2 separate regions of the Homo sapiens genome follow, and region 2 is linked to region 1. Evidence: fine-mapped expression QTL. A gene starts in region 1. The other region holds a variant in brackets. All regions are shown on one strand. Distances are between the middles of the regions.

Region 1 (11,284 bases):
GGGCCTCCCCTAGCATGGAGAGGAAGATGGGTAGCAGTCAGAGAGTTGCCTGGCACTGGTATGAGTCAAGAGAGGGATGGAAATTTGGTTTTCTCTGGTGGGGGTATCTCCCAGATTCCAGGGGTATCTGGTGGCCAGAAAGCTGCTCCCCAGGGAGGTGAAGTCCCTGCTTGAGGGAAGGGGGTGGGGGCATGTGAGTCGGTTTAGTGGGCCCGATGTGACCAGGCCAGGCGGGGAGCAGCGTAGACGGTGAAATGCTTTTCATTACTGAACATGCTTTGGGAATGGCATGAGAACTCTTTCAAAGACTCAGGACCCGTTTGAGGCTTTATGAGGGGCAGGTCACCTGAAGCTTTGGGTTTCAGAAATAGACCATCCCCTCTCCCATCTGTATCCTGAGTTAAACTGGGGAAGCTGAGATGTGTCTAGATCCTCCATTTGGGCTGACAGCAGGTCTGCAGGGGGAAAATGCCACTGCCCCTTGTGTTGGCCTGGGCAGCTGGGGTGGGGATGGTTCTAGCACTGTGCTGTAGGTGTATCTGACCTACCATCCTGGGAGTGGCCCAACTCTAGGGATGAGCTGGGTCATACGGCAGGGATCACCCAGAGGAAGGTAGACCTCCATCATCCTCTGTGCTTGGATGAGAACCTCACATCTTGGACCCTTCCTCGCACTCCCGAATTCTCTAAACTCATCTCTAGTCCTCGTTCAGAGGTGCATCCTTCTTTTACACCTGGGGCCAGAGAGGAGGACCTGGGTTAGGAGGGAAAGTGAGCTGGTTATTTCCCTTACTTTTCTGCTTCTTCGCCTCCTTTAGGTCCCGTCTGAGGTGCCCCTGACCGTCCCTGCCCTCACCCCACCCCGGATCCCGGCAATGCTAACCGCTGTCTGCGGCTCTCTGGGCAGCCAGCACACGGAAGCGCCGCACGCCTCCCCGCCGCGCCTCGACCTGCAGCCTCTCCAAACTTACCAGGGCCACACGAGCCCTGAGGCCGGGGACTACCCCTCCCCGCTGCAGCCTGGAGAGCTGCAGAGCCTCCCGCTGGGCCCGGAGGTGGACTTCTCGCAGGGCTATGAGCTGCCAGGGGCCTCCTCGCGGGTAACCTGCGAGGACCTGGAAAGCGACAGTCCCTTGGCCCCGGGCCCCTTTTCCAAGCTCCTGCAGCCGGACATGTCACACCATTATGAATCGTGGTTCAGGCCGACTCACCCAGGCGCGGAGGATGGCTCGTGGTGGGACCTTCATCCGGGCACCAGCTGGATGGACCTCCCCCACACTCAGGGCGCGCTGACCTCACCTGGCCACCCGGGGGCGCTTCAGGCGGGCTTGGGGGGCTACGTCGGAGACCACCAGCTTTGTGCCCCGCCACCCCACCCGCATGCGCACCACCTCCTTCCAGCTGCCGGAGGGCAGCATCTCCTAGGGCCGCCCGACGGGGCTAAGGCCTTGGAAGTAGCCGCCCCGGAGTCTCAAGGGCTGGATTCCAGCCTGGACGGGGCGGCGCGTCCCAAAGGCTCCCGGCGGTCGGTGCCCCGCAGCTCAGGCCAGACCGTCTGTCGCTGCCCCAACTGTCTGGAGGCGGAGCGACTGGGGGCTCCATGTGGGCCCGATGGGGGCAAGAAGAAGCATTTGCACAACTGCCACATCCCGGGCTGCGGGAAAGCCTACGCCAAGACGTCGCACCTGAAGGCGCACCTGCGCTGGCACAGCGGCGACCGTCCCTTCGTGTGCAACTGGCTCTTCTGCGGCAAGCGCTTCACGCGCTCGGACGAGCTGCAGCGCCACCTCCAGACCCACACCGGCACCAAGAAGTTCCCCTGTGCAGTCTGCAGCCGCGTCTTCATGCGCAGCGACCACCTGGCCAAGCACATGAAAACCCACGAGGGCGCCAAGGAGGAGGCGGCTGGGGCGGCCTCGGGAGAGGGCAAGGCCGGCGGCGCAGTGGAGCCCCCCGGGGGCAAAGGCAAACGCGAGGCCGAGGGCAGCGTGGCTCCCTCCAACTGAGCTCCTCAGTGCCGCCTCCCTGCGGGTATCCCGGGGGGCACTGGATGCGAGCCCCCAGGTCTGACGTCCTTGGGGGTGGCTTGAGGAAGAGGGGAAGGTGCGTATTTATTCAGGGAGGAGGAAAAGTGGTGCAGGGACAGGGAGATGGGGCGCTAGGGGTTCTTAGTCTCTGGGGCTACTAGGCAGGATGAATTTGACTGGGTCGGTAGGAGCTGCGCAATGCCCCTCTGTTCTCCCCTGCCTCACAGTTTCCCTCGCCCCTGGGCTGGGGGGTTGGGGTGGGACACCCGTACCGCGGCTGGCTGGCGGGGACAGGCTAGAGGAGACAGCAAGTCCCAGTCCCCGGAGCAGAGAGAAGTGGGGCCGGCCCGGGGCGCTGGTGGTGGCTGTCTGGACACGTCCTTAGCGCCTGGGAACCAGGACATAAAAGCGCCTCCGGAGCCGCCCTGCGGCGGGGTCCCTTTCATCCCACTTAAAGTGCTTCTGCCCCTAGGGTTTCCGGAGGGAGAGCCGAGATGGGATGGGGGAGCCTGGGGGTCCCCCTTGGCAGGGGTGTCTCTTTCTGGTTTGGAGGGTTGTTGCTGTAAAAATAACTCCTTTGATGAGCTTCCTTATTAACCCTTTCAGACCCAGTCTGTTGGAGCCATGAAGGAAGAGGGAAAGAGGGCTGCCATTCCTGACAGCCTCCCAGCCAGGGCTGGCGATAAAGGACCGAGATAGATGGAGGGGGCGAGTAGGGAAGTCCTCTTCTAAAATGAGAGATAGGGATTTGGTGGGGTATGGAAGGAACTAACCCCTTCCCTCTCCACCTCTGATTCAGCCCTTAATTCTTGGTCTATGATAAATAAAGTTCAGTAGTCTCACATTCCCCATCTATTACCCTAGGTGTGTTTTCAAGGCAGCCAGCGGTAGAATCCATGTAGTTCCCACCAGTTGCCTTCCCCTCAGGGATGGAAGGAAGAGGGTTTCTTGGGCTGGTTGAGGGCAGATTGGGGGTGTCTCATCAGAGGGACCTCCACTGGTTCCCACTCAGAGTGGAGGCCTGCAGCCTACCTGACCATCTCTTTAGCTGTCACCAAGAAAATAAACCCCACTGTCTCTCTAGCTTGGCCCTTGTCTTTCCCTTGCCCCTGCCATAGCATGTTCATTAGGGGATTCCTTCCTCCCCCTCATCTCACAGGGGAAGGGAGAGGAAAGAGTTGTTCTCCCACTGGAAGGGGTTCTGCCTTCTGAGGTGACATCCAGGAAGCTGTCCCCATTCCCTTCTCCTTTAGATGCTAGAAACACATTTTGATTCTGATCATGGGGTGGGGGAGAGAGGAAAGGAGGGAGGGGAGAAGCCCAGCAGAAGCTGAGCCAGGCAGAGGGGAAAGAAGCTGATATGAGGAAGGGTCTGACAGGCCACAGCCCTTGCAGCCGGAGGGCTTTCCCACACTCAAGAGAGGGGCCTTACAGTCCCTCTGACACCCCTCCCCCTTCCCCTCGCTCCCTTTCTTCACCCGGAGCCCTCTGCAGAGATTAGCTGTGTATTGATTTTTAAGTTATAAGCAAAGGGTATTTTATTTAATATTAGGTTATGTGTGTGCATGTTGTGTGTACCTGTGTGCATGTATGTGTGTTTCTCTACTGAGCCTGGGGTCTCTAGCCAGGGAGACCCCATCTTATTCACCATGTCCAAGATCCTGGGATCTGGGCCCAGCATCTCTTCCTCCTTTGTAGATGCTGGAGCCCAGCCAAGGTCTGGGAGCTATATGGGAAGTGGGGGCTGGGATCTGGGTGGGAATATGTGTTTGTATACAAAGGGGCCCTCCTTAAAAGGGACAGGATGACCTTCCCGAGGAACTCATTGGCCTGGGGTAGTTTAAGAAGTAATGTTCTTTCTTTCTTTCTCTTTTCCCTACCTCCTGCTAACCCAACCAGAGATCCCCTTCCTTGCTGAGAGGGTTGGGGGCAGGAGGAGATTTGGCAGTGCCTGCAGGTTGCCTGGCCAGGTGGAGAGGGGGAAAGAGGAAGGGCACCGTGGGTGTAAGATGCCTTTCTCCTCCACCCATCGAAACCAGCCACCCCTTCCCTGTGCCACCAAGACAGCCTTTTCCAGTGGCCATCCTAAGGGGAACTCCCAAATGGGTGTTGCTGGTGGACACAGATGCTCCCCCCAATGGAAGCCCCAAGCTCTGAGGTATGCGGGTAGAGGCTTTGGATAGGTTTTCTTCTGCTCCCCTCTTTTATAGATCTAGGCTGCTTGGCTGCCTGTCTTTCTAGGCAGTCCCCCTAGAGGAAAAATGTAGGAATTTATTTTTTCTTTAACTGCTGTGAACTCACTTTGAGGGGGTAGGAGGAGGGAGAAACAGCCTGTGTTTTTTATGCAATAAAGTCATCAACTACATCATGCTTCCTTTGTGTTCCAGCTCTGTTTCCTTTTTGACTCAGTGTCCCTCAGCAGTGAGGACCAGGTCTGGGCCACAGAGTGGGGTGGATGCTTCCCAGTGATCCTGCAGCCCCTTGGAAAGCCTCATGTCTATTGAGTTGGGTTGGAGCTGGGGTCTGATCCTGCCCCAGAGGTGGCTGGTACAGAAGGAGGGAGGTTCTTCCTCTGGGTTGGTACCCGGGCTGTCCCTCCCTGGTCTCATACCTGTGGTTATGAGAAGTTTCTAGATATCTCTTTCCTCTTCCACATACAAGCCCCTTCTTTCCCTTCCCCTGCTAAGAACACTGGTTCCCTCTTTCCCAGGCACTGGCTCCCTCACTCCATCCCCATAGAGGGTGCATGTCAGTCCATCCCCTGCCTGTGACTGAGCTGGGGGTGATTGGCAGTGATTACTTCACCCAGGATGATCCTTATCAGGGACAAGGCGATGAAAGGCAGCCGAGCTATCTGATGGGCTCCTGCCCAGCTGGAAAGTATGAGGGAAAGGCTCCTACTGTAGCTCACAGCTAGAGACCCACCATGGTTACACAACCACAAGGCACACAAACATACCCGCACTGGACCCACGTGCACCCGCCCCCAGAGATATGCAGAAATATCTATCTGTACACATCTTCCCAGGCCTCCCAGTGCTTGATACAAAGTTGGTGCCTAATTCACATCAAATGAGTAGAAAGCCTCATGATTCCAGAGCCCCAAAGCCAGGAAGGTTGACAGAAGATAGGTTTTGGGCTCCAAGGGGGCTGGGGGGCGGGGGTTACTATGTTCTTTCACCTTCTCATTCTACCTTTTTGCCAAAAGTATTATTTTCCCCTAGTGGGATTTCTAGATCCACCACTCTAACCCTAACCCAATTTCTCGAAGCCAAATCTGGTACTCAGGCTGGCCCATCCCATAACTTAATTTGGGATCCTGGGGTCACAACCTTTATGGCTACCTTAGGATAGGGGCATCAGAATGAATGATTTAGGGGTTGTAGAGGAAACCAGACTGGTTTGGGGCCAATTGTTTTGTTTCCACCTGCTGCTAGATTTAGAAGGCTGGGAGGAGGAAGGACAGGTGTGTTTTCCTAAGACCTTATGCCAGCCCCACTCCTCCAGGTGCCTCTTTTGTCTTCCTGGTTCTAGGGGAGTTAGACCCCAGGAACTTGGTGAGTCCCCTCCTCCTTTACCCCCATCGCTGCCCCCAGGGACAGGAGGGCAGCTGTGCGGCCGGCTGGGCCTGTCTGGGCAGGGCTGGGGCCACCCCTCCTCCCCATGCAGCTCCTCCCGCTGACCTGCATTCTTAGCAGGGGCCTTTGGTGGGGCTCTGACACTTGCTTCCTTGCTGGAAATGCTGCCTGGCTGGCCTGCCCCCCATCCCCCCCACGACGGAACCCAAAGCCACCTCTGACCCCCCTCAGATGGGGTGCCTGGCAGGAGGATCATGGATGGCCCAGGAAAGGGTTAGGGAAATCAGAACATCTGGGCTGGCTCTCTGGGTTCCTCTCCTGGGAAGTGGAAGTAGAATCTACTCCTAACCTCTAGGGTGGGTGAATGAAATAAGAAATGAGAAAGTGACAGAGAAGAAGACAGCCTGGAAACTGCAACCTGGGGGTGCGCTGTGGCCTCTCTCTGCCTCTCCTCCTGCCTGTTTCCGCCCCACAGTGGGAAGCCGGGAAACTGCAGGAGATGAACCCGCCTTCCTGCAAGCTGCTTCAGGTGCCCAGATTTCTCAGCACGCAGCTTCGATGTTTGCTTCTGGAATGACATTAATTGGCAACCTCACAATCCCTCCCCGACACTGTATCAGAAACAGCCTTCACCTTCCCATTAATCCTAGCATGACTGACCGCCAGCACCCTAGCACAGTAGGCTTGAAAGAAGGCCAAACTCCACTAAAACACTGTTAGAATTGTTTTCTTTCTTTCTTTCTTTCTTTTTTTTTTTTTTGAGACGGAGTTTTGCTCTTGTTGCCCAGGCTGGAGTGCAATGGCGCGATCTCAGCTCACCGCAACCTCCGCCTCCCAGGTTCAATCGATTCTCCTGCCTCAGTCTTCCCAAGTAGCTGGGATTGCAGGCATGTGCCACCACGCCTGGCTAATTTTGTATTTTTAGTACAGATGGGGTTTCTCCACGTGAGCCAGGCTGGTCTTGAACTCCCAACCTCAGGGGATCCGCCCACCTCAGCCTCCCAAAGTGCTAGGATTACAGGCATGAGCCACCACACCCGGCCCACTGTTAGAATTGTTAAGCAAATACAGTAAAGTCAGAGGATACAAGGTCAATGTACAAAAGTCAATAGTGTTCCTATACACTAATAACAAACTATACAAAAAAGAAATCAAGAAAATAGTCCCATTTACAATAGCTACCAAAATAATAAAATATTTAGGAATAAATTTAACCAAAGAGGTGAAAGATCTGTACTCTGAAAATAAGATATTGATGAAAGAAACTGAAGAAGACACAAAGACATGGAAAGATATTTCATGCTCACGGATTGGAAGAATTACTATTGCTAAAATGTGCATACTACTCAAAGCCATCTATAGATTCAGTGCAACCCCTAGAAGCAGATAACCTGCAGCATCTCCCCTCTCTCCATTCTGGAGGGCTCCACAGAGCAAAAGGGTGTAAGATGCATTTGTCTTAATGATGGCTATGGAGAGATGGTTTGTAGAGAAAAATGAACTGAAAATCAAAACATTTGGGATCAGAGTGTACCTCCACATGACTGTGTGTCACCTTTGGCCAAGACTTCTTTGTGGTTTCAGTTTCACTACAGGTAAAGGCACCAAATCTTTGAACTAGAAAGTTCTAAATTTCCCTTTAAAGCGATCTTCCTATGGGTTTGAGCACTATCAGACAGATAGGTCCTCTGGGATCAGATGGGTTTTGTGCACACTTTCCCTTATTTATTTATTTTAAGAGACAGGGTCTTGCTCTGTCACCGCGGCTGGAGTACCGCGGTGTGATCTTGGCTCACTGCAGCCTCAATCTCTCTGGCTCAAGAGATCCTCCCACCTCAGCCTTCAGAGCAGCTGGGACTAGAGGCACGCACCACCACGCCCAGCTAATTTTAAAATATTTTCTGTAGAGGCGAGGTCTTGCTGTGTTACCCAGGCTGGTGTTGAACTCCTGGGTTCAAGTGATCCTCCCACCACCGCCTCCCAGAGTGCTGGGATTACAGGTGCGAGCCCCCCGCACCCAGCCTCCACCACTCTCGTATTCTGTATCTTATTCCCCTAGGCGCCTCCAGCCTGGGATTGCGCCTCTGGGATTCAAACCAGGACTCAAGTATCTGAGGTTCTTCCTTAATCTCCAGATGTCCCAGCAGTCCCCTTTCTCTGACAAAGTCTCCCTTTTCACGCGGGATCCTTTCCACCCCCAGCTCCAGCTCCCCGCAGTGACTCCGTGGGGTTAGCAGCCTTTGTCAGGCCTCAAATGGGCGCCTGGGTAGGACAGGGAGCCAGGTGGGACTCGCAAGGCCGCTCTGCTCCGGGAAGTGGTGCAGGCGCGCGCCCTGGTGGAAAACGGCGGAGCTGCAGGCTCCGTTCCGGCTCCGACCCCGAGGCCGAAGGCCTTCCAGGTCACCTGAGAGTCTCCGCCCAATGGGGCGGCCCTGGCCAGAAGCGGAGGAGGTGGCACCCGGGACCGAGCTGGGGTCTTGGAGGAAGAGAGGGTGAGGGGAATACAGTACTGGGGGTGAGAGAAGGGTTGGACAGAAGAGGGTCGGGTATCTGGGCATGCGCAGGGCCGCAGGACTCTTGGTGGGGTAGCGAGGGGGACGGTCCCACGACTGCTCCGAAGGGCCGGGACTCCCAGTGGGGGCGGGACCCCCGGAGTGCCCGCCTGCGGACTCCCAAGCCTGGAGCCTGGGGAGAGGGTGGGCACCTCCGTTCCCGCACACCCGTCCATGGTGTGTGCGCCGAGCGTCCAGGAGCCACGGCGGTGTCTTCCTTGCGCGTCTTTTACACGTGTGGGGGTAGGCTGCTCCTCGGGGCTGAGCCGTGGCCAGGGTTATGGAGAGGCCCGCCTCTCCCCAGATGGCGTCGTCGAGCCCTGACTCCCCATGTTCCTGCGACTGCTTTGTCTCCGTGCCCCCGGCCTCAGCCATCCCGGCTGTGATCTTTGCCAAGAACTCGGACCGACCCCGGGACGAGGTGCAGGAGGTGGTGTTTGTCCCCGCAGGCACTCACACTCCTGGGAGCCGGCTCCAGGTGGGTTAGACTTTATGGGGTGCTGGGAGGTGTGGCAGATCTCTGCATTCTTTTAAGACCTTCTTCCCTGCTCCCCACACCTGGGAGGCTGCCAGAAGTAGTGGAAGAGCATGAGCTTTAGGTCTACCAACCTGGACCTGAGCTCATTATGTAGCCTCAGTCTACCTCAGTTTCCTCTTCTGTAAAATGGGAATGAGACCTTCCTCAAAGGGATCTATAAGGTAATTGGCAGAGTGCCACACTCGAGGGGCCGCCCCTCTATGAGTGGACGCTTCCTTTCTCCTCCCTCACCTCCAGTGCACCTACATTGAAGTGGAACAGGTGTCGAAGACGCACGCTGTGATTCTGAGCCGTCCTTCTTGGCTATGGGGGGCTGAGATGGGCGCCAACGAGCATGGTGTCTGCATTGGCAACGAGGCTGTGTGGACGAAGGAGCCAGTTGGGGAGGGGGAAGCCCTGCTGGGCATGGACCTACTCAGGTGCAGACCCTGCCCTTCCTCATCTGCCTGACACACCAGAAATCTAGGGGCTGAGTTTTGACCTGGGCCCATCCATCCCTCCCCCAGCCTGGTTCACAGGGGCCTCCTCCTCTCTGCAGACTTTGCCCTTGTGCCTTCGTGAAGAAGGCTGCAGCAGCAGCCACCTTTGGGCCTCTCCTGGCCCAGAAATAGAGCAGTGGTTATTTATTTATTTTCAGTTGAAATCTTACATAGAGTCCCAATTTATAAAACCAGTAATAGTGGATGGAGCAGCTCTGGGTGGAGAGAGGTTAGGGGCTCAGGACACTTCTCTCTCTGAAACTGTGTTTCAGGCCTTTTCATGGAACCCTCAAAGCATAGCACATGGAACCAGAGCATTGAAAGCCACTGGCATAATTGCATTTGATACGATCAGTGCCAGCAGATTTGCTGTGTGACTTGGGCCTATCACCAAACCTCTCCGGGCCTCTTCTGTCCCCTGGAGCTTCTGCCACCAGCCATTGATCCCTCTGTCACCCTTCTGTCCCTTGGCCCTCTCTTTTGCCAGGCTGGCTTTGGAACGGAGCAGCTCTGCCCAGGAGGCCTTGCATGTGATCACAGGGTTACTGGAGCACTATGGGCAGGGGGGCAACTGCCTGGAGGATGCTGCGCCATTCTCCTACCATAGCACCTTCCTGCTGGCTGACCGCACTGAGGCGTGGGTGCTGGAGACAGCTGGGAGGCTCTGGGCTGCACAGAGGATCCAGGGTGAGGTGTTCCCTTTCTCCCAGCTTTGGGAAGTGGGAGAGATGGTAGGGGCAGGGAGGGGCCCGATCCAGGTGCAAGCCTGTCAGGACATCCAGGGAGATGGGAGATGAGCCCACTTGGGAATTCTCCTCCCCTTCACTTGGTTAAGTCTTCCGTGTGCTACAGCCTGTTGCTTCCTCTGGGAAGCCTTCCTGGACTTCCCTGGGTGGTCAGGTTTCCTGCTTATATGCAAGCAGGTACTTCTTTTTCATCGCATTCAACACAGTTGCATGCTTACATTTATCTCTGTGATTATTTTGTCTGCCTCCCCCACCAAAACGTAGGCTCCATGAGGGTAGGTAGTTCTCTTCTCCACCATGTTCTCAGCACCTCGCCCAGTGCCTGGCATAGAATAGATGCTCAATGGTAAATGAACCACTCCCCGATCTCCTCCACAGAGGGGGCCCGCAACATCTCCAACCAGCTGAGCATTGGCACGGACATCTCGGCCCAACACCCGGAGCTGCGGACTCATGCCCAGGCCAAGGGCTGGTGGGATGGGCAGGGTGCCTTTGACTTTGCTCAGATCTTCTCCCTGACCCAGCAGCCTGTGCGCATGGAGGCTGCCAAGGCCCGCTTCCAGGCAGGGCGGGAGCTGCTGCGGCAACGGCAAGGTTAGTGAACGGTGGAGGGGGCTGGGGGCCAGGAGGGCCACAGCAGTGCCAGCCACTCTCCCCTCCCACAGCTTCCCCCTCTACTCCTTGGCAGGGGGCATCACGGCAGAGGTGATGATGGGCATCCTCAGAGACAAGGAGAGTGGTATCTGTATGGACTCGGGAGGCTTTCGCACCACGGCCAGCATGGTGTCTGTCCTGCCCCAGGATCCCACGCAGCCCTGCGTGCACTTTCTTACCGCCACGCCAGACCCATCCAGGTGGGAAGAATGAGGGTGGGGAAGGCTGGGGAGAAGAGAGGATCTGATATATCTCCGTGCTTCCATCTGTGCCCCTCTAGGTCTGTGTTCAAACCTTTCATCTTCGGGATGGGGGTGGCCCAGGCCCCCCAGGTGCTGTCCCCCACTTTTGGAGCACAAGACCCTGTTCGGACCCTGCCCCGATTCCAGACTCAGGTAGATCGTCGGCATACCCTCTACCGTGGACACCAGGCAGCCCTGGGGCTGATGGAGAGAGATCAGGTATCCCCCAGGGAGTAGGGGCTACCTTGAGGGGATGATAGACCTCCCCCACTCCCAGTGGGACTCTGGAAATATGAAGGAACTAGGGAGTGGAAGAGATTTCAGAGCTGGGGAGAGGAGTTCCTCCCTTCAAAGCCAGCAACTGCCTTTGGGGAATGTCGGGGGGTATCTCCTTTCTCCTGCTTGTGTGAGGTGGTACACAGTCCCCCCTTCACCTGGCGGGAAGCCTGTCCCGGACAGACTCATCTC
Region 2 (13,956 bases), 65 kb before region 1:
CAGTGAAGAGAGAGTGTTTTCGGTGAGTCTGTCCAGGATGCTGCAGCCCCAAGCCCTCGGAGCCCACTGCCTACTCGCCTGGGTGGTGGAGGCGGCAGGCTGCAGGTAGTCACTGGGACTCACAGCAGCAGTGGCAGCCATGCTGGTCTGTGGATCTGTTGGAAGAAAAGAGATGGAGTAATGTATAAAATGCCCAAAAAGAACGCAAGCCCACTTGCCTCAGATTTTCTTTTTTTCTATTTTTTTTTTTTTGAGACGGAATTTTTGCTCTTGTTGCCCAGGCTGGAGTGTAGTGGCATGATCTAGGCTCACGGCAACCTCCCCCTTCCAAGTTCAAGCAATTCTCCTGCCTCAGCCTTCTGAGTAGCTGGGATTACAGGCGCTGCCACCATGCCCAGCTAATTTTTGTATTTTTAGTAGAGACAGAGGTTTCACAATGTTGTCCAGACTGATCTCGAATTCCTGTCTTCAGGTGATCCACCCGCCTTGGCTTCCCAAAGTGCTGGGATTACAGACATAAGCCATTGCACCCAGCCAGATTTTCTTTTTGCCTCTATTTGTTGCTGCTTCTCCAAGGGAAGTTAATGACTTTTCCCCAGACTTACCCACCCTGGGTTGATAGCCTTACATCTATTTCAGTAGATTACTTTCTCCTCTCCTCTCCTCAGACTCAGCCATCTGAGGCTGTGAGGACAGCTGGTCCTGCTGTCGTTGGACTGCCCCCTCCAGCCACCACAGAGTCTGAGATAACACAAAAATAACCAAGATTATACCAGGACTCTCTTCTGTAACTCAGCTATGCCCTCTCTGCTGGGCACTGCTGGCTCTCCATAGCTAAACTGGAACTCCTCTATGGTGGGCAGGGGGGAGCTCCCCAGCTAATCCTCTAGCTCAAACTCAAGCCTCCTGTTCACTCCTGCTGTAGACAGATGCCAAAACTGGGAGGGAAGTATCGCTCAGCCAAGATTTCTGACAAGGAGGACACACCTGCTCCACTGCCAAGTCTTGGGTGTTTTATGCTCAGCCTTCACCACAAAGGCCGTTGTCCCCAGGCAGCATATACAGCACATGGGTCAATTCTTTTTTTTTTTTTTTGAGAAGGAGTTTCACTCTTGTTGCCCAGGCTGGAGTGCAATGGCACGATCCTGGCTCATTGCAACCTCCACCTCCCAGGTTCAAGTGATTCTCCTGTCTCAGCCTCCTGAGTAGCTAGGATTACAGGCATGTACCACCATGCCCAGCTAATTTTTGTATTTTTAGTAGAGACAGGGTTTCACCATGTTGGTCAGGCTGTTCTCAAACTCCTGACCTCAGGTGATCCACCTGCCTCAGTCTCCCAAAGTGTTGGGATTACAGGCGTGAGCCACCATCCCTGGCCTCATGGGTCAATTCTTTACTTGAATTTACGCTTTTACATAGTACAATAGGCACGGCCCCACAGGCATCAACCAAGACTCAGTAGAGCTAATGACTAACTGGATATAACAAGGAGAATGAAAACAGAGTAAATTCTATTTTTGTTTAAATGTGTATATATTTCTATATATGAATATAATCAAATAGGAAAAAGTCTTAAGCCATTATCTCCTAGCGGTTGAGTTTTGTTTGACTTAAACTTATTTTGCACCTTGGTTTTCTGTACTTTTTCATTTTCCCATGATAAATATATTCTACTGTACTTTTTTTCTTAAATAAAGAAAAATAAGGTTGAGGAAGTAATGAAGGGACTCTCTACTGTGCACTTAAGTCATCCAAAAGAGGCTAGGTACAGTAGCTCATGCATGTAATCCTAACACTTTGGGAAGCCGAGGTGGGAAGATCGCTTGAACCCAGGAGTTCAAGACCAGCCTAAGCAACACAGTTAGACCCCGTCCCTAATAAAAATTTTTTAAAAAGAAAGAAACACAGTATCAGGAAAACGAAAGTCATGAGAATTTTAGGAGAAAGAATCTATACCATCTTAAAGTGCATAAATCACTAAGGAAAAGAACACCAGGCAGAGTCAGACTTCAATCCTGGACCTCTGGAAAGCAGATTTCAGTAAGTACAGAAATAAGAGGGGTATTACTTTAAAGACTAAAAGAGACAAAAAGGCTCAGGATGCATTCTGCTTGGAAGGCTGAGATGGAAGGATCACTTGAGGCCAGGAATTTGAGGCTGCAGTGCCCTATTATCACACCTGTGAATAGCCAAAACACTCCTGCCTGGGCAACATAGCAAGACCCCATCTCTTAAAAAAAAAACAAACAAAAAGGCGCAGGGGTTGAGTCCTTGTAAGGAATTTGGCAAAAAGAGGATAGATATTGGGCTGGGTGTGGTGGTTCACGCCTGTAATCCTAGCACTTTGGGAGGCTGAGGCAGGCAGATTGCCTGAGCTCAGGAGTTAGAGACCAGCCTGGGCAACATGGTGAAACCCCATCTCTACTAAAAAGACAAAAAATTAGCAGGGCGTGGTGGCAGGTGCCCGTAATCCCAGCTACACAGGAGGCTGAGGCAGGAGAATCATTTGAACCCAGGAGGTGGAGGTTGCAGTGAGCTGAGATCGTACCACTGCACTCCAGCCTGGGCAAGAGTGAGACTGTGTCTCAAAAACAAACAAACAAACAAACAAACAAAAGGATACATATTGGGAAAGCAGAACCGTTCACATTTTGGCTGGCCTCAGGCTTCTCTGTTTGGAAGAACAATTCTTAAATGGGGAAAAGTAAAGAAAAGGTGAAGGCACGGGATGCAGTGACTCGTGCCTATAATTCCAACACTTCGGGAAGGTGAAGTGGGAGGATTGCTTGAGGCCAGGAATTTGAGACCAGCCTGGGCAACATAGGGAGACCCCATCTGTACAAAAAATTTAAAAATTAGCTGGACATGGTGGCACATGCCTATGGTCCCAGTTACTTGGAAGGCTGAGGTGGGAGGATCGCTTGAACCTGAGAGGTCAAGGCTACAGTGAGTCGTGATCACACCACTGCACTCCAGCCTGGGTGATGGAGCAAGATCCCATCTCCATAAAAAAAAAAAAAAAAAGGTGAAGTGGAAACTGAAGCCCTGGATAGGTGATGAGCTGGTAAGAAAGCACACCAGTGCCTTAAATGGTTACCAGGCCTGAAGTCCACACAAACTATACTCCAGAGGAGGGGAGACTTTGCAGACACACCTGCAAATGTGTATGGAGCTGGAGGGCAGCTCTGGGCAAAATTATATATGCAGATCCCGTAATATTACAGGCACTGATTCTTGGCAAAATCCTAGGACAAATGATTGAATAGTACTGTTAACTACTGAGGAAAGGAAGGAGTGACCACAAGGAATAGCATTATAATATAGAAGAACAGGTCATGCTGAACAAATCTGTTTCTTTTTTGTAGGGTTTTGGATGGATACATCAAGAGCATGGTATACACCAGGTATTTTATTTCAACAGGCATCTGGCTGACATTTTCATAATATTCTTGTGAACAAACAAGGAGGAAACTTGGGCAATATGATAGTCTAGTTTGTCTGGGGCTAAGCTGAGCATGCCTCCACCTAAGTGCTGAGAAGTCTGCTGCTGCAAAGTGTCTCGAACTGGGGTGGGTCTCAGGACCAGGGTTCACAGGCATCTCCGCAGAGGCCTTTTTATTCTTTTCTTGTGTGTTTTCACTGTGATTTTTTTTTTTTTTTTTGAGACGGAGTCTCGCTCTGTCGCCCAGGTTGGAGTGCGGTGACACGATCTCTGCTCACTGCAAGCTCCGCCTCCCGGGTTCACGCCATTCTCCTGCCTCAGCCTCCCAAGTAGTGGGACTACAGATGCCCGCCACCACGCCCGGCTAATTTTTTGTATTTTTAGTAAGAGAGGGGGTTTCATGTTAGCCAGAATGGTCTCGAGCTCCTGACCTCGTGATCCGCCTGCCTTGGCCTCCCAAAGTGCTGGGATTACAGGCGTGAGCCACTGTGCCCGGCCAATCTTTTTTTTTTTTTTTTGAGATGTAGTCTCACTCTGTTGCCCAGGCTGGGGTGCATGATCTTGGTTCACTGCAACCTCTGCCTCCCAAGTAGCTGGGATTACAGGCACCCACCACTACATCCGGCTAATTTTTTTTGTATTTTTAGTAGAGACGGGGTTTTGCCTTGTTAACCAGGCTGGTCTCAAACTCCTGACCTCAAGTGATCCACCCACCTTGGCCTCCCAAAGCGCTGGGATTACAGGCATGAATCACCATGACCAGCCAAAACAAAGATTTATTTGTTTGTTTATTTATTTAGAAACAAGGTCTTGCTCTATCACCCTGGCTGGAGAGCAGTGGCGTGATCTCGGCTCACCGCAACCTCTGCCTCCTGGGCTCATGTGATCCTCCCACCTCAGCCCCCCAAGTAGCTGGGACCACTGGTGCACACCACCACACCCGGCTAATTTTTATGTATTTTCTAGAGACGGGGTTTCGCCATGTTACCCTGCCTTTTCTCGAACTCCTGGGCTCAAGCAATCCCATTGCTTCCACCTCCAAAAGTGCTGGGATTACAGGCATGAACCACCACACCCAGCCCAATCATCTTTTTAAAAATGAACATATACCATAGATCACCAGGTAACTGCTGCATAACCAAGTCCTGCACATTTCAGGGCCTGTGTGTGTGTTTACAAGTGCACTGTGTGGGCTAATTAGGACAACTTCATTCTGCACATTTAGTTCACGATACATCTGTGCAAAGTGAAAGATGACATAACTTTAGAAGCAGTGGAAAGACTGTATTACTCTGACTGACACGCTACAGGATGGGTGTGCAGAACTCAAGGAGCCTAAGTGTCAAGTCTGTGCCATGCTTACAAGGAAAAGCAATGATTTGGGTTCAGTCAAACATCACCCTCTCAGAATGATGCTGATAATTTGAATTTTACTGGCTTTTTTTGTAGTTACATGTGTGAACTTTATAGGAGCTAGATCAATGAGCTGACACACAGATTCATGTTCATATAAAATTAAGTTGTAATATTATAATGAAAATAATCTAAGCCAACCCAAACCATTTTTCCTTTAGAGTGGTAGTGTTCAAACTATCAGACCACGAACCACAGTTACAGAAACAATTTGCATCAAGACCCACCATATGCATACATACACCACACATTTCTGTCCCATGCTCATGCAATGAAAGTTTCCTGAAACAAAACTCCCTTATTACATGTGACGGACCGTGATATTTTTCTATTCTGTTTTGTTTTTTTAAATGCTGGCTGTGACCCACTAAATTGGTTTTGTGCCCTACAGGCTGGAAAACTTAGGCTTTAGAATGGTATTCACCACCCAAGTTTGGCAAAGATCTAGACGACAAGTAAAACTTGCAGATGTTGGCCAGGCGTGGTGGCTCACGCCTGTAATCCCAGCACTTTGGGAGGTTGAGGCAGGTGTATCAGGAGTTCATACCAGCCTGGCCAACATGGTGAAATCCTGTCTCTACTAAAAATACAAAAAAATTAGCCGGGTGTGGTGGCGCATGCCTGTACTCCCAGCTACTTGGGAGGCTGAAGCAGGAGAATTGTTTGAACTTTGGAGGCAGAGCTTGCAGTGAGCCGAGATGGTGCCACTGCACTCCAGCCTGGGTAACAGAGCAAGACTCGGTATCAAAAAACAAACAAAAAAACCTTGCAGATGTCACAAAAGTGAGAAGGATTGGAAACACAATGGGTATTAGTATTAGAGTTCAAGGACATCTTAAAAAACTGGTAGGTACAATGTTTAAGAACATCAGGCTCCATACCTAAATGAGATTCTGACTGTGTGGTTCATTAGTGGGATGGTCCCTCTTAGCCTCCTCCTAGTGCCCTCTGTAAAACAAAGGTAATGTCATCCTTCTAGGATTTCTGTGAGGCTCTAATAATTTATATCACTGCATCGAGGGTTTAAAGGCATATATGGCTTTAAAGTTTAATAAGTCCTGGCCAGGTGCAGTGGCTCAAGCCTGTAATCCCAGCACTTTGGAAGGGCAATGTGAGCAGATCACTTGAGCTCAGGTGTTTGAGCCCAGCCTGGGCAACATGGTGAAACCTTGTCTGTATATTAAAAAAAATAAGTCCTCCACTTAGGTTAAAAAACCAATCACATGCATATAGGGCAGAAAGAGCCTAATAGTGCCATGTGGAAAAGCCCCAGAGGTTTTGACTTTAAGCTGAATGGGGGCCAGCACAATCTAGATATGGCTGCCAAAAAGGCTACTGCAATTTTGGATTGCATTTCTAAAAGTTCAGTCATAGAACAAAAAAATAATATCCTCCTGTAGTTTACACACTTGGGCCACATCTGGAGCATCAGGTTCTGTTCTGAGGGACATTTTAAAAGGGGGATTTTCAGCTGGAGCTTGTTCAGAAGACAGCAGCAATGGTTGTGGTCAGGGTGCCAGAGTGGGGACATGGGTTCAAAGGGTAGAACCAAGACTCCTGTGTGGACATTTTGAGGCAGATTTTAGTTAACACAAGAGAGAACTTTGAAAAGATGAAAATCAGTTGCCTTCTGAGGTACTATGTTCTCCCTTCTCTGGAATCACTTAACCAGAGGCAGGACATGTGTCCCTGCTGGAGTCAGGATGTTGAGATGGGGTGGGAAGTTGGACCAAATGATCTTTAAGATTTTTATTCATGGCCGGGCGCGGTGGATCACACCTATAATCCCAGCACTTTGGGAGGCCGAGGCGGGCAGATCACTTGAGCTCAGGAATTCGAGACCAGCCTGGCCAACATGGGGAAACCCCATCTCTACTAAAACTACAAAAATTAGCTGGGTGTGGTGGTGCGCACCTGTAATCCCAACTACTCAGGAGGCTGAGGCAGGAGAATCGCTTGAACCCGGGAGGCGGATTTTGCAATGAGCCAAGATCGTGCCACTGTACTCCAGCCTGGGCGACAAGAGCAAGACTCCATCTCAAAAAAAAAAGATTTTTATTCACTGGAAGAAAGTGCAGTGATTTAAAATAAGTTAAAAAAAAGATTTTTATACTTCTCAGACCATGTTGCTGATAAAAATACAAGATGAGTTTGTTGCTGGCAGAACTGCAAAGGAAGGCAATGGCTCTCCCAGGAGGCTCCCCCAGGGCTCAGGTTTGCTTAGCTAAAATTAGTGAATGACTCTCTTAGACATCCTCTATTATAAAACAAGAGACATAGGATCCGCGCAGAGTGTAAATGAAATGAGACGAAATAAAAACTGGCCTAGCGTTTCTTCATCATCTCCCTCTCTGCAGTCCTTATTACCCTGGACTCAAACTGTTTGGACACTGGGCTGGGTTCTGAGTGACTCTTCAGTTAGGAGGTTAAAGCAGAATCTACTGAAGCAAGCTGCAGACTGCTAGTGCTGGACGTTGCACCATTTCAGCTTGGTTTCATTTTCCTCCCCAGCTGGTTCCTGAAATACTCCTATAGATCTCAAACCAATGTTTGCAAGTATCTTTCCTAGCGTCACTCAGAGCTTTATGGCCACAGGCTGCAGACCTGGGCAACCAAAAGAGAGACCGATCTCCCTGCCACTACAGAATTAACCACGAAAAGGAAAAGAGAGGCATTTCCCACTGATGTTTGGAAATGAAAAGTGGTTAAGAAGAGGTAGCATAGATACCTAACTGTAAGACTATGATCAAAGGCACTTTAGAACCTCATTAATTTGGAACTTTATATTTAAAATATACAATTTGGACATAAATTATGCTTAACTTTTCTTTCATACTATTTAAAGCGAGCCTAAATGGTGTTCGAAGATTGCAAAGGGACCCTTAGTCAGAATAATTGTTTTATACCACTTCCGCCATTTTAATAGTGCCACTTGGTTTTAACAGTAGTTTACATCCGGTCACTGAAACCAACACTTAACAACATAGGTAAGTGGGATTAGTGCATATTCTTGAAAGAAAAAGCTGCATTGCTTTCAAAGTTATATCATTCAGACTTTTCATTAAGTTAGGTTGGCTAAAACTTTCCCAACAGTCCCCAAGCTGGTGAAGTTTTACAATTATTTACTATACAAGCAATAGTACCTCTCTTAGGTTCCATGGAAAACTCCAGGGGCATCAAACAAAGTTTGAAGGCAGCATGGCATAGGGATGGGGTTGCAGGTGCCCGATGGGACCACACACAACATTCCTTTCCCATATTGGAAACCAATTTAATTCCAAAACCAGCAGAAAAGCATCCCCTGAGTTTCTAGACTCTTGATGTACTACTGATCATCCGCCTCTACCTCCTGTCCCCTCCAGCACAGCCTTCTCTTCCTACCCCTTTGGCCAAACTTGGTAGAAAAACTGCTGGCACCCTGCCGTCCCCTCCCTCCTTCCCTACTCACTCATTTCCCGGCAGCATTAGGACATCCACCCTGGCACTGCGCTCATGCTGCACCTGCCCAGGTCACCAGCGACCTCCTTGCTGCTCAATCCAATAGCCCCTCTGACCAGTGCCTCTTCCTCAAAATTCCCATGGATTTTCTCCCACCTCTCCTGCCACCTCTTCCCCTTGTGGGCTCCTCTTCCTTTGCCACCCTTAAATACTGATGTTCCCCAACATCTGTCCTTTCTCCTCACCCAGCACCCTTTCCCTGGGTGACCATGCCTACTCGCACGGCTTTACATACCTTCCACAGGCTGCCAACTCATAGGCCTGTGTCTGGCCCAGATCTCTGCTCCACGTGTTAGACCTGTACATCCAGCCCTCTGTGGGTCTTCCATTAGGGCTGGCCACAGACACCTGGGGCACTGAGCGACAGCTTTGCCCATTCTTTGTCCAGCCTTCTCACCCTCAGCCACCACAGGCCTTCTTCCAGATCCTTGAAAAACTTCAGTGTCTGCAGCTGTCTTTCCTTGCTTACAGCTCTTTCTGTTCTCTTCACTAGCTAAGACCTCACCCTTCAGGTCTCTGGCTGTTTGACTTTCCCAGCATAATTTAAGAGCCATTATGTAACAGGCATGCCATTTCCTCAGAGAGGCCTTTCTGGACCCCTGAGATGAGGCTAACTCCTTTGGGAACACTCACCACTCATTAACTAATCATGAGCCCAATGTATGCGAGGGCTCCCCAGGGTGGGCCATGTCTGTTTACACCACTGAACTGCAGACACCAAGGCCTGGCACATGGCTCACGGACACCTTCAGTGCCTATGGGCTGTATGAATATCCTGGGTTAAAGCAGCCTCTCTTCTGGTATCTCCAATCAGGACAAAACCTGAGTATCCCCCTCACTGCCAACCAATCATCAAGTCCTCATGATTCCACCTCATAGACAAATCTCCCTATAGTGTACCCAGGCTCCCCATCCTCATCACCATGATCCACCTGAGATACTGCCTACGGCCTCTAAAACTGCTTCCTGGCCTCTGGCCTCCCCCTTAGTCAGCCTCCACAATTTGGTTAGAAGGCTCTTTTTAAAGTGCAAATCCCATCCAGCTACTCTCCTAATTAACCCCCTCAATTGTTCCCTGATGCTCTTGTGATAAACTTATAAAGGCCAGAACAACCTGTCCCTCCCTGGTCCTCCCTCCTGACCTCTTTCCCTTCCAACTCTCCCAACACACACTTCAGTTTTTCATTTCTGGAATTAAAACACGCCACCCTGTCTCACTTGGAGCCTGAAGCACACTCTCTCCCATTTGCCCGGCCAGCTCCTGTCCTTTAGAGCTCATTTATACTCTCACTCAGCGAAAGCCTTTCCTGACCTCCTCCCACCTCAAATCTGGGGCAGGTGACCCTGCTACCTGCCAGTGCATACTCCAGGCACCCTTCGGCACTGTCCCATCAACACAGAGCTGGGAGTGTGTCCCTGTCCCACGGTCTTTCTAGGCCTGACTTGGGGAGAGCACGTAACAGGAAGAGAGACCTCTGAGCCCTGGCCACCAGGCTGCAGGCTGTTCGACTGTTCCTTTCACTGAGAATGCTACTCTTGAGACCCAGCAAATGAGAAAACGCGCCTACAGAAATACCACAACAGTAGGCTTTAGGAAGCTTTTTCTTCTGGAGAGAACTAGGCTCCATCTCCACAACCCAGGCCTTGGGGGTAACTCGGCTTTTTTTGCCTGTGGGTTCCTGCCATCGTGGGTCTGGCTTTCTTGGCTTTTTGCTATGGTATTTCCCCTGGAGGAATTTCACACTGTGCAAACAGTCTTTCTCTTGGCTATTTTGGTCAGCTCAGCTGGGCCGTAAGCCAACAAAGCAGTTTCTAAGCCCAGGCTTTTCCAGTTGCCTAGCCTGGAAGAATTCAGAGCTGGTGAGGGAAAAGCATGCCCTGGCTGGTTTTAGAGAACAAAGTTGGACCTCAAAGAAAGCTCACAAATGGGGTATGAGAATCCATTTGGATGAAGAAAGCAGCAACCTTGGTAGTGAAAGACTCCAAATTGTGCTGAATATTTCAATGAGAGGCAAACCTCAGCAATCATAATAACTATTATAAGGTGGGCACGGTGGCTCATGCCTGTAATACCAGCACTTTGGGAGGCCGAGACAGGAGGATCACTTGAGGCCAGGGG[T/A]TCAAGACTAGCCTGGGCAATACAGCAAGATGCCATCTCTACAAAAAATGTTTACAAACTAGCTGGGTGTGGTGGTGTGTGCCTGCAGTCCCAGCTCCTTAGGAGGCCAAGGCGAGAGGATTGCTTGAGTCCAGGAAGTCGAGGCTGCAGTGAGCCATGATTGCACCACTGTGCTCTGGCCTGAATGACAGAGTGAGACCCTGTCTTTAAAAAATAATAATAAAAATTTTAAATAAACAAATAAATTAAAACCATGGTAAAAGAGCCCATTAACAGTAAAACAAATTTCAATGGCTTTCATTTCAATGAGAACAACTCTGGGCCGTGGCTTGCTAATGCCACAGGCCGAAGTAAGCAAGAAGGTGAGTAAGGAATGGAGATCTTGTCTCCACATTAACCCTTTACTGAGCCTCCCATCTCCCCCCACTCCGCCATCTCAGACCCCCAGCCTCAGGCAATGACCCTTAGGTATGTCTACAATTTCATCAAGAAGTTAAAATTTCCCTCATCAGCTAAGATCCATTATGTCTCCCCTTCTCTTCAAGCAAAACTCCTTGCAGGAGTTACCTATACTTACTGTCCTTAATTTCTCTCCCGCTAGCTTTTCTTAAACCTGCTCCAACCAGGCTGCACCCTCCTCATGCATGCCACGAAAACTGTTCACACCACCAGACACCTCCATGTTGCTAAAAACCTAATGGCTACTTCTACTTCTTTTTTTTTTTTTTTTTTGGGACAGAGTCTCACTGTCACCCAGGCTGGAGTGCAGTGCCACAATCTCAGCTCACTGCAAGCTCCGCCTCCCGGGTTCACGCCATTCTCCTACCTCAGCCTCCCGAGTAGCTGGGACTACAGGTGCCCGCCACCACACCTGGCTAATTTATTTTTGTATTTTTAGTAGAGACAGGGTTTCACTGTGTTAGCCAGGATGGTCTCGATCTCCTGACCTCGTGATCCGCCAGTCTCAGCCTCCCAAAGTGCTAGGATTACAGGCATGAGCCACTGCACCTGGCCTACTTCTTTTTTTTTTTTGAGACAAAGTCTCGCTCTGTTGCCAGGCTGGAGTGCAGTGGCACAATCTCAGCTCACTGCAACCTCCGTCTCCCGGGTTCAAGTGATTCCCCTGCCTTAGCCTCCTGAGTAGCTGGGAATACAGGCGTGTGCCACCACGCCCGACTGATTTTTTGTATTTTAGTAGAGACAGACAGGGTTTCACCATGTTGGCCAGGATGGTCTCAATCTCCTGACTTCGTGATCCGACCACCTCGGCCTCCCAAAGTGCTGGGATTACAGGCGTGAGCCACCGCGCCGGCCATGGCTACTTCTTAAACCACGTCATCCGTGTTGCTCTGACAGTTGATTGCTCTTCCTTTTGGTCTTGGCTCGCTGCAACCTCCGCCCCCCGGTTCAAGTGATTCTGCTGCCTCAGCCTCCCAGGTAGCTGGGATTACACGGGCCTGACACCACGCCCGGCTAATTTTTTGTATTTTTAATAGAGTTGGGGTTTCACCATGTTCGCCAGGCTGGTCTCGAACTCCTAACCTCAAGTGATCTGCCCGCCTCGGCCTCCCAAAGTGCTGGGATTACAGGCGTGAGCCACCGCGCCTGGCCTCTTCTTCCTTGAAACACTTTCTTTACTTGGCCTCTAGGACACACTTGCTAGTCTCTGGCTAACTTCTCCCATATCTCCTTTGCTGGTTCTTCCTCTCCTCTCAAATTCTAAATGATTGGGTTGCCCCAGGACTCTGTCTCAGGACCTTTCTTCTGTCTACACCTGTTTCCTAGCTGATTTTGTCTAGTCTCGTGGGTTTAGAAACCAGTAAGATACAGATTCTATATAATTTTAACTCTCACATTTCTATCTCGACTGGTATATCCAACTGCCTACTGATAGCTCCACTTGGATGTATTAATAGGCATCGTAAATCTAACTAGCCCCAGCTGGGCGCTGTGGCTCACGCCTGTAATCCCAGCACTTTGGGCGGCCGAGGCAGGTGGATCACCTGAGGTCAGGAGTTGGAGACCAGCCTGGCCAACATGGCGAAACCTCGTCTCTACTAAAAATACAAAAATTAGCCGGGCGTGGTGGTGCCCGCCTGTAATCCCAGCTCCTTGGGAGGCTGAGGAAGGAGAATCGCTTGAACCCGGGAGGTGGAGGTTGCAGTGAGCCAAGATTGTGCCACTGCACTCCAGCCTGCGTGACAGGAGCAAAACAACATCTCAAAAAACAAAACAAAACAAAACAAAAATCTAACTAGCCCCAAACAGTGCTCCCGATATTGTCCTAATCCTGTGACTCCTTCAAAATTCGCCACTGCAGTGAATGAATAGTAACTTCATCTTTCCAGCTCCTCAGCCTTAAAACCTTGGGAGTTATCCTTATCTTTTTTCCACACCCTACACTTGACAGCAAACACTCTATCTTCAAAATATATGCCCAATCTGACTGCTTCTACCACCTCCTCTGTCATCACCTAGGTCCAGGTTTCTATCATGTCTCCCACGGATTAACCTCCTAGCTGTGCTTCTGACCTTGACCCCATCAGTCTATTCTCAACACATCCAGAGTAAGACCCATCACACTTAAATGAAACCATGTTATTTCTCTGCTCAGAGGCCCCCAATACCATCCCATCTCCCACTCAAAGTAAAAGCCAAAATCTCCATTGTGACACAAAAGGCCCCTGTGTGACCTAACCTCTTTCACCTGCCCTGTCACTCTCCCTCTCTCACTGCTTTAGCCATGCTGGCTCCCTGCTGTTCCTGAACATACCAAGTATGGCCCCTGCTGAGGGTCTTTGCATTGCTCTTCTCTCTGCTGAGTTCTCACCCTCCTCCCCTCACCCCAGATAGAAAAAGGCTCAATCTCCTCCCCACTCCTTCAGGGTTTTACTCGGATGTCACCTTATCATTGAGACCTTCCCTGATCACCCTATGTAAATTGCCACCCCCCTTTTTTTACCTTATCCTCATTTTGCCTCCTTAGCACTTCTCACTGTCTAACAAATATCTATTAGTTATTAATTGTCTCCCACTAAGATGTAAGCTTCCTAAAGGCAGGGACTTCTCTGCCTTACTCACTGATGTATCCCAGTCCCTGGCACATGGTAGGTGCTTAATAATCTATATTTGTTGAATAAGTGAATGAATAAATCCTGGAGGCTTTAGAGCAGGAGGGCCTAAAGCGAGTTTAGGAACCAAAGGAGAAAAGCTGCAGATTTGCATATCCTGGCACTAGGTCAGGATCCACTCCACAGCTGGGTTTAGCTGACCCAGACCCTGGTGGAACCCTCAACCCCACCAGTCACCTCACATGTGGGCCAGTGCAGTCCAGTCCTGCTCCTGGCCAAAAACTTCAAAGCGCACGCCTCTCATCACCACACACCAGGTACTACTGCATTTCAATGCTTCTCTCAACTGATATGCATTATTAATGCTTCTCTCCATTGACATGCATTGGCAGAGCCGGGATAGCACCACTGCA

What was found. PIP is the estimated chance that this variant, and not a neighbour inherited with it, causes the effect. A credible set is the group of variants that fine-mapping cannot tell apart.
Region 2: its variant is the best candidate, but not a certain one, in a credible set for the expression of SCRN2 in amygdala (GTEx, PIP 0.54).

Annotation. Positions count from the first base shown.
Region 1 is chr17:47,838,021-47,849,304 of GRCh38, reverse strand. SCRN2 (secernin 2) reads left to right here and starts at 8,032. Exons shown (of 8, transcript NM_138355.4): 1 at 8,032-8,097; 2 at 8,462-8,635; 3 at 8,933-9,114; 4 at 9,662-9,861; 5 at 10,299-10,514; 6 at 10,609-10,774; 7 at 10,855-11,035. The coding sequence starts at 8,462. SP6 (Sp6 transcription factor) reads left to right here. Exons shown (of 2, transcript NM_001258248.2): 2 at 819-4,397. The coding sequence starts at 876. The coding sequence ends at 2,006. RefSeq lists enhancers at 1,580-2,188, 6,133-6,182, 8,005-8,560, 8,464-8,563.
Region 2 is chr17:47,901,511-47,915,466 of GRCh38, reverse strand. SP2 (Sp2 transcription factor) reads right to left here. Exons shown (of 7, transcript NM_003110.6): 2 at 79-155. All of the region lies in intron 2 of SP2-AS1 (SP2 antisense RNA 1), which reads left to right. Among named protein-coding and RNA genes, the nearest start is that of SP2, 12 kb to the right of the region's middle. RefSeq lists a silencer at 11,182-11,375 and enhancers at 12,863-13,366, 13,871-13,956. The variant T/A (reference allele first, on the strand shown) is at 10,473.